Linked DNA regions of Homo sapiens: region 1 is linked to region 2. A link means that fine-mapping ties the variant in region 2 to the expression of a gene that starts in the linked region. Tissue or cell type: whole blood. Region 2 holds a variant in brackets; the other region holds the start of a gene. All regions are shown on one strand. Distances are from middle to middle.

Region 1 (4,621 bases), 37 kb after region 2:
TCGCAGGGCCTTGAATGCCAGGCTCAAGAGTTTAGGTTTTATCCTATGGGAATTGGACAGTTCATAAGAAGTTGTCTTTTAATTCAAAATGTGTTCATTAAGGAAATAATCTGACAAAGAGTATTCCCCATTTCCTTCTGTCTTCTTCCTAAATTTCCTAAATGTTATAGGTTGTATTTTCCTTCTTAGCATCATTCCATAGCTATATGACTTTGTTTTCTACTTTCACCTTAACATTACCTCATATACATTTTTCTCTGTGTCTTTGTCATCTTTACTTTTGATGGCTACACCTTATCTCTTGCTATTGTTGGATATTTACAGTTTTACTTTAAGTATACAGCATTTTAAAAATACATACGCATATGTGTATATCTGTGTGCAGGCCTGGGACTAAGGGAAGGCAAGTGCCAAGGACATAAATGTAAAAAAGCTCCTACCTTCTGGCATGAAAATTTGTACCTGTGTACCTCATTTGTCTTACCTTGGTCCCAGCCCAGCCCTATACCTAGTGTGTGTGTGTGTGTGTGTGTGTGTGTGTGTGTGTGTGTGTGTGTGTGTTTTCCTTTTAAATTATTTCCTTAGGAAAAATTCCCATGATGGGAGATTACTGGTTCAGAGCATGTTAAGATTCCAATTACTAGAGTGTTTCTCAGGAGGATTCCATTGAAGGTTTTTTTCCCTTTTTCAAACAAAATTTTGATATGTATACTTATCAAAAGATGGGAGATCAAAAATCTTGAGATCAAAAATTTTGGTATGTGTACATTTTACAAAGATTACAGAGGCAATGGGGGATGTTAGGGGGCTATCACAATAGCATGTCCCAACTAGAGTGCTATTGTTGCTATAGAAATTCCACTGATACAACTTTTCATGTCTGCATGGCCCAGCCAAAATATTCTGGGTTTATTTATTTATTTTACAGACAGGGTCTTGCTATGTTGTCCAGGCTGGTCTCTAACTCCTGGGCTCAAGCAGTCATCCCACCTCAGCCTCCTGAGAAGCTGAGACTACAGGTATCACTCCAGCTTTAGACACAGTTATAACTTCATGCAATCAAGCTGTATACTCAATTATTATCAAACCAACAACAAAGCCTCTGATATTGAGTCCATGTCCCTAACAGACGACCCTTCTGTGTGTACCAACCTGGCCACTCAAGGTGTATCATTTTCACAAGAGATTAGCTCTTTGGATTTGGACCCAGGAGGTTCAATTGGCAGAGCAACCTCCAAGTCAAGAGGACTCTCATGGAGGAAGGAACTTGCTGTTTTACACAAAGCAAGTTCCCAGCTTTAGGCTCAAGTTCAAATTCTATTACTTGGGGACAAATGAATTTGCCCAATAGCAACAATTTTTACAAAAGTTACATGGAAAAATATCTGGGCTAGTCTGTTCTGTATAAATTTTTCCAGGAGGGAGCACTTTTAAAGAAAGCACCAAATGGAAAATCACCGGCATGGAGTTTAGAGAGACCTGGTGCTTGAGTCACTACCAGGCAGATGGAGTTCCCAATCTTGCATAATTAGGGGAAAGATCGGAGGGTGATGGAGCAGAAAGAGCAGTTGGGGTGAGGTAGAGTATCATGAAGAGAGGTTGTTGGAAAGAAACCAAAATTGTCTTCAAGGATCTTCAAGTGACTTTTCTTAGGCTATCTTGGAAAAATGTGTGTTTCTACCTGCCAATTAGGGTGATCAATTTACTATTTTGTACCTTCTAATTTGAAATACTGGAAGCTACAATATTAGAGTCAACTTTTTCTTCTGTGGTTTTCTGTCTGTTCACTTTTCTTCCTCTAGAGAGTTTTGATAAGTTACTGTACTGGAACTTACTGCTTTGATAGAGTCTCACTTTCCAAAGACTGATGAAATTTGTCTTACTGATTCTGAATGGACAGCCTTACTTTCCAAATTCTTCTGAGAGTTCTGGATCAAGCCCATCAAGGCTTTCTAACCTCAAGAACATCAAAGGATGCTGGCTTTTGGTGGAAGGCTTGCTGAACCACACCTAGTATGCACAGACACAGCTAACACCTAGAGTGGGGTGCAAAGAGAGATCTAGAAGGCTACAAAAAGTCTGGGCAAACCCATATTTTGTGAAGGTGCTTTGCAAAAGGATTGCAAGCCATTTTTCTGGCATGCACCTTTGTCTAAGAACAAAGTGCGGTAAACTATATGTGTAGTCAGTATGATTCACATAGATTAAGGACAAGGTATTCGTCAGATTCCCAAAGAGCATCAAACTGGGGTTGGACAACAAAGGCATTCTTCTGGGCTCTTAATGAAACCAAAACTTATTTCTAGTCTATGTATTTATGGGATGCCTGTTATTTTCGCTAAAGCATTCGCTTTCCCACCAGATACAGCAGCTGAGGAACTCCTTTCTGCCACGCGGGGCGCGGGCGAGCGTTGGGGGCGGAAAGAATCCGCTGCCACTAGGACCAGGCGGAAGAAGCATCCCCGCCGACCCTTGGGGAAGGCCGCCGCGGCACCCCCAGCGCAACCAATCAGAAGGCTCCTTCGCGCAGCGGCGCGCCAACCGCAGGCGCCCTTTCTGCCGACCTCACGGGCTATTTAAAGGTACGCGCCGCGGCCAAGGCCGCACCGTACTGGGCGGGGGTCTGGGGAGCGCAGCAGCCATGGCAAGCCGTCTCCTGCTCAACAACGGCGCCAAGATGCCCATCCTGGGGTTGGGTACCTGGAAGGTAGGTGCTCGTGGGGGCGCGGGCCCGGGGCTCGCCTCACACTCTCCGCGCGGCCTGTATTGGCGAGGGACCCCGAGTGACCCTGAGCAGCTCGCCCCGCGGACGCCCGGCGTGCTGGGAGCCACGCGCGGGCTTGCAGGGTCCCCAGCGGGCTGGGGTCGGCCTTGCAGAGACCGGGGGCCTTGGCTCCCCGGGTTGGCCCTGGGCGTCAGGGCAGCATCCTGCGAGTGGGGTTTGGGAGCAGCTCACGGGAGCCCCCGCCCTACCGCGGGCAACCCTTGATGGGCGGCCCACCAGTCCGCATTTTGGGTCCTAGCGGGCGCCCCAAGCGGCACAACGCGAGAGGGAGGCGGGGAAAGTGGGCTTCACAGACCGGTGGACCTCGGGCGCAGACAGGGACGTGGAGCCGTCGGCAAGGTGTGGGAGCGCAGACCCAGCCTCCTTTCCCTCGAGGCACCTGTAGCCCGGTTGCCTCACTTGTAAATAGTTGGTCTCAATCGTTTCGATTCTTGCCCTCCCTGAGGAATAAGCATCTCAAGCCGGTAGAGGGCAGAGAATTAGGTGGCGCGAGTTTGCCCGGACCCAGCTGTTAACAAGGCGCAGTGCGGAGCTCCTCGGCCAGGCGCCGCCTCGGGGTGCCCTGGGTCTGGAACTCGGGAGAAAAATCTGGGCACCCCGTAGCTAGTTGATAATTCAGGAGGCGCCAAGGTTAGCATTTTCCCTGTAAAACCTCAACACCACACAGCGTCCCCGAGAAGTGCCTAGCCGGATGAGAATGACAATAGGACATGAAACATCATAGGATATGAAAAATGATAATATGATATGAAAAACCAAAAATAATAGCCTGAGCCTGATTATCTGAAAATTGAGCAACAAAGGTGGTGGTATGGGAGCTGAGGCAAAACCTAGAATTTTTAACCTTCTAAGTATTGCATATTATATTCCACAGCCATAACCTGGGTTTCTCAGTTTCTGTTTTTGTTGTTTGCTTGTTTGTTTGTGACAGGGTCTCGTTGCCCAAGCTGGGGTGCAGTGGCACAATCATGGTTCATTGCAGCCTGGAACTCCTGGGCTCAAGTGATCCTCCTGCCTCAGCACTGCGGGTAGCTGGGACTACAGGCGCTCACCACCACACCTGGCTAATCTTTTTTCTTCCCCGCAGAGACAGTCTCCGCTTGTTGCTTAGGGTGATCTCCAATTCCTGGGCTCAAAGCGCTCCTCCCACCTCGCCTCCCAAAGCTACAGGTGTGAACCATCTGGCAGGCCCACGTCCCAGGTTTTTCTCTTAAAATTTGAATATGGGCCTGGGCGTTGGATATTTACACACAGACAAGGGAAGAAAACAACAGAAAGAACTGAGTGAACTGTGAGATGTTTGAAATAGGACAGAAGAGTTTACATGTACCCTAAAACCTGCTGTTGAAAATTAGTAAATATAAGGTAAGAAAAAGGTCATTTGCATCAGGGAGAGTGTTTCTTGGCCAGAATGATCAGGGTACGTGATTTGTTTCCTCCAAAAACTCCAGTGGTGTCTCTAAGGTTGTAATTGAATTACAACCATGACACCAAGCTAATTTCCATCTGTTGCATGTTATGCTCTTGGAATGGATGCAGAAGGATGCTTTCTTGGCAATAGCAAATACTTTCTAAGCATGATGCAACGCACAGATATATACATGTAACTGGAATAAAAATTACTTAACAGTACTTAACCTATGTAGGCTGCATTTCAATATTTTTTTCTATTCCATTTTTCCAAAAATTATTGTCATACCTCCAGAAGCTAGTTTTGTGACCCATCATTTGAAAATCACTACTCTAGGGTAAATAAGGAGTAAAAGTTTATTTTTTTTTTTTTGAGACAGGGGCTCAGTGTCACCCAGGCTGGAGTGCAGTGGCATGATCATGATT
Region 2 (4,621 bases):
ATTAAATTTTTACTGGCTTACTTGCTTTAAAATGTCATATTCACATTCTTTATTCCAAGAACGGGAGAAGATAGAAGAAAGTTTTACCACCTTTGATTTGAGGGAAGACTTAAAATGTGATAGGCTGAAATTTGGGGATAAACCCAAGGTCTGAATGACAGTTGGGGTTTGACGAATACTGTACAAACAGAATGGCAGAGACTTAATCCTTGGAGAAACTCTATAAAAAGAAATAAGGTTTTTGGGACAAGTAATTAAGTAAGAAACAATAGCATGAAAAATAGAATGACAAACTGAGAAAGCTGATATTCTCACTGCCCTTGGCTCCAGTAAGATCCTTCCCAAAGAAATTATCTTCTTGCTATGTGTGCCAGGACCATGAAAATCCAGACAAATGAGAAGATTAAAAATCATATCAGATGGAGAACAGTGAAAACAACAGGAAATGATTTGTTTGCAGAATAAACAACTGGGTGAGATATGATATTGTCTTCAGAATTTGAAGGACTGTCATGAAACTTTTATGACAGCACTAAGACCAGAAAGAGGATGGTTCCAAGAGTTCTATGTGGCATGGAATAAAGACATGATGATTAAGATTGCCTGACAAATTGACAAGCTGCCTCCCAAATCCATGCACTCACTTAGAATGAAAGTATCTGGGAGCTGTATTAGTCAATTTTCACACTGCTGATGAAGACATATCCAAGACTGCTCAATTTACAAAAGAAAGAGTTTTAATGGACTTACAGTTCCATATGGCTGGGGAGGCTTCACAATCATGGCAGAAGGTGAAAGGCACGTCTTACATGGCAGCAGATGAGAAAAGAGCTTGTGTAGGGACTCCCCTTTTTAAAACCATCAGCTTTCATGAGACTTATTTACTATCATGAAAATAGCACAGGAAAGACCTGACTCCAGGATTCAATTACCTCCCACTGGGCCCCTCCCACAGCACATGGGAATTCAACGTGAGATTTGGGTGGGGACACAGCCAAACCATATCAAGAGCTAAGTGATAAGAACTTATGAACACAAAGAAGGAAACAACAGACAATGGGATCTACTTGAGCAGGGAGGGTAGGAGGAGGGAGAGGAGCAGAAAAGATAACTATTGGGTACTGAGCTTAAACCTGGGTGATGAAATAATATGTACAACAAACCCCCATGGCATGTGTTTACCTATGTAACAAACCTTTACATGTACCCCCAAAGCTAAAATAAAAGTTTTAAAAAAACGTTTAAAGTAGTACTAATAATATTGGTTCAAGAATATTGAGATTAACTACTACCTGAAGAGTCCTATTATATTCACGTATTGTATATAAATGATCATATTCATCTATTTACATGTAAAAACACAAAAGTTGGCATCAAACAATACAAGGTTAATTATTACTGTAGATCTGAAAGTAGAAAAAAACAGAATGGAATTATTTGTTCCTAGGTTGAGTGACCAACTATTAGAGATGCTGTGGATGATTCCTCATTGAATGAGGAATATCAGTGGAACTTTACGGCAGTGGTCAGACTTCTGGGTCTCATGACTGCTTTATACTCTTAAAAATTATTGAGGCCAGGTGCGGTGGCTCATGCCTGTAATCTCAGCACTTTGGGAGGCCAAGGCGGGTGGATCACAAGGTTAAGAGATCAAGACCATCCTGGCTAACATGGTGAAACACGTCTCTACTAAAAATACAAAAATTACTTGGGCTTGGTGGCACATGCCTGTAGTCCCAGCTACGGGGGAGGCTGAGGCAGGAGAATCGCTTGAACCTGGGAGGCAGAGGTTGCAGTGAGCCAAGATTGCACCACTTCACTCCAGCCTGGGAGACAGAGCGAGACTCCACCTCAAAAAAAAAATTACTGAAGACCCCAAGGAACTTTTGTTTAATATGGGTTATATATCAATATTTACCATACTGAAAACTAAAACTCAGAAATTTAAAAAATATTTATGTATTAATAATTTTTTAAAATAATAAACATTATATGTTATACAAATAACATTTTATGAAAATACAACTATATTTTCTAAAACAAAAATTTAGTGAGAAGAATGGCACTACTTTGCGTTTTTATAAAACTCATTAATGTATGACTTAATAGAAGACAGCTGATTTTCATACCTTCTTTATTCACTCTATTGGAATATCACACAC[C/T]ATGTGGCCTCTGGAAACTCCACTATACACTTGTGAGAGAATGAGAATAAAAAAAAAACGCTTTTAGTATCATTACAAAAATGGTTTTAGTCTCCTGAATCCCTCTGAGAGCATCTCTAGATCCCAGATACACTTCAACCCTTTGTAGTCTGATAGCATCAACCCAATTTATCAACCTAATAATACTGCATTAATAAGCCACACTCTCCCCTTTCAGGACATGGTTAAGAGGACTCTACTTGGGTACAAAGCATAGACATGTGAATTCATCAGAATCTAAAAGTATCATTCTACTTTCTCTTTTTTTTTTTTGCCATAGTCAAGATTCATTAATCTTCAACTAGAAGTTCAGTACTCTTTTTTGTTTGTTTTTTCAATAGAGATAGAGTCTTGCTCTATTGGTAGGCTGGTCTCAAACTCCTGGCTTCCAACACTCTCAGAGTGCTGGGATTACAGGTGTGAGCCACCACACCCAGCTAAAAGTCTGATACTCTTCACAGCATCATATTATTTATCTGCAAATAAACTATCTTGAAAAGATTATAATGGGTCATGTCAAAGTTGATATATCTATGAGGAAGTTTACATTTGAGGTTGCCCAAAAATAATTTCTTGATTCATAAATCTAGAAGCAAAGGGGAGATTTTCAACCTCCAAGTAATTTTTACTTTTTTCTTGGTTCTACATAAGCTTTATCATAATTATGTCACTGACATGTTGGAATAAATACAAAGTTAATTACAATTGAAAAAGAAGAACACTGCAACATAAACTAAATTATTTTAACTAAATTTGAACTTACGTGGTTGACATTGTTTCACAATTGTGTAAGTTCAAATTTAGTTTAGATCTGTCTAGTTGTTTAGTGTTTAGACCTTTACAAAGGCCAGATAACTAAACAAATCCTTTTCTCTACTTTTTAGTACTGTTATTTTTAGATTACTTAGATTAACCTCAAAACAAACCCAGTTTATAGCATAGTCCACAGCCTGTAATTAGATAACAATTACAATATTGGTTTAGCAAAAGTGGAAGCCATCTAATCATTTTCCAAAACAATTTAATTCCTAAACTCATTTTGCTTTTCATCATTTGTTGCCAACAATTTCCTACTTTGTCAGTTTCTATATATCTCTCATGTTCTTTTCATACCTAGTGCTTGGTATTGCCCTTCTATGTAGAAGTTAAGTTTATGTTAAAGATCAGATAGGTCTGTTTTAACTTCCTGAATTTCTGCTTCTTGTATTCCTGAAATGACTAGGGCAGTTATTTGTAGATTTTCTAAGGCAGTTACTTGCAGATTATGTCTTTTATCTCTGTGGAAATAATAGACATAATAATTTCAATCAATAATTGAAATAATTCCAATTGCTACAAATATTCATAGCGCTTTTCTTAGGTGATATTTATCTAGTGGAGATAAATTTGGTAAAATGAGCTTTTTGTCATATCCTTGTCCCTTTTTGTCATATCCTTGTCCCTCAAATTGTATGCATTGTGGTTGGACATATGTGACTTTAAATTGTTCTATTTTGAAAAATATTTTACTCTCCTAGGTGTTGGTTTGTAAATTAATTTTAATAAGTTAATGAGAATGTGTTTCAATAAATTTGATTTTAATAATTTAGGTGGAGAGTTTGTTATGCCTTTGGTCCACTGTGGTTTCCAATGGTGTGTTCATAAGCAATGTGTGTCACTCCAGGATCCTCTGTCAATTATGCATAGTCCAGAGTTACAGAGTTTAACAGAGCATTTTGCAAAAGAAGTGTCTTTAGCTACAAATATAGGTAAGTGGGAGTCTAGTCTTGTTATGGTTTGGTAAATAGGATGTTGGACTGACCATGTAACTTTATTCCATGATCCATTAGATGGCTAGATCGTGGAGAAAAAGTAATTTGACATACCTGGGTTTATTTTTATGACTTTCTTCATATTTATTTTGGTTCCTAGTGTTTCCCACCAATTGATTTAAATTATGTATTGTTGTTTATATCATCCTGAATTTCCAATGGACACATTGGAAAAATAACTTGATTTTGTACATATTTGGTTTTGCTGGTAAATTTGTTTAATATAATCATATTTCTTGGTTCATTTCCTGTAGAGAATGTGCTAATAATCTCTGTTGTTTCGTATGTGGATATAAATGGTCCAAGTACTAAAGGTGACTTAGATAATAGCAAATTGTAGTTATCTGGTCTGTGAGTACATGTGAATATTAATTGTTCCCATTTTATTTGTCATAATTTATCAAAAATACTCATTTCCAATGATGTCCAGGACCATCCAGGATTTCTAGAAGATGTTGACTTCCAAAAGTCAGTAAATTTAGCAGGTATTTTGTATGTTGCTATATCTACAGTGATGACTGGGAACTAGTGTACTTTTCACAATTGTGTCCAAAATGAGCCTGTTTTGGCTTCTGTTGCATCCCATGATACAGCAGACTTTCCAGTTAT

Evidence for each region. PIP is the estimated chance that this variant, and not a neighbour inherited with it, causes the effect.
Region 1: it holds the start of AKR1B1, and the variant in region 2 is fine-mapped to the expression of AKR1B1 in whole blood (TOPMed, PIP above 0.99). The same link has a PIP of 0.9 or more in blood mononuclear cells.

The regions. Positions count from the first base shown.
Region 1 is chr7:134,457,083-134,461,703 of GRCh38, reverse strand. AKR1B1 (aldo-keto reductase family 1 member B) reads left to right here and starts at 2,604. Exons shown (of 10, transcript NM_001628.4): 1 at 2,604-2,707. The coding sequence starts at 2,642. RefSeq lists a silencer at 2,805-2,994.
Region 2 is chr7:134,494,502-134,499,122 of GRCh38, reverse strand. No RefSeq gene overlaps it. Among named protein-coding and RNA genes, the nearest start is that of AKR1B10, 31 kb to the left of the region's middle. The variant C/T (reference allele first, on the strand shown) is at 2,163.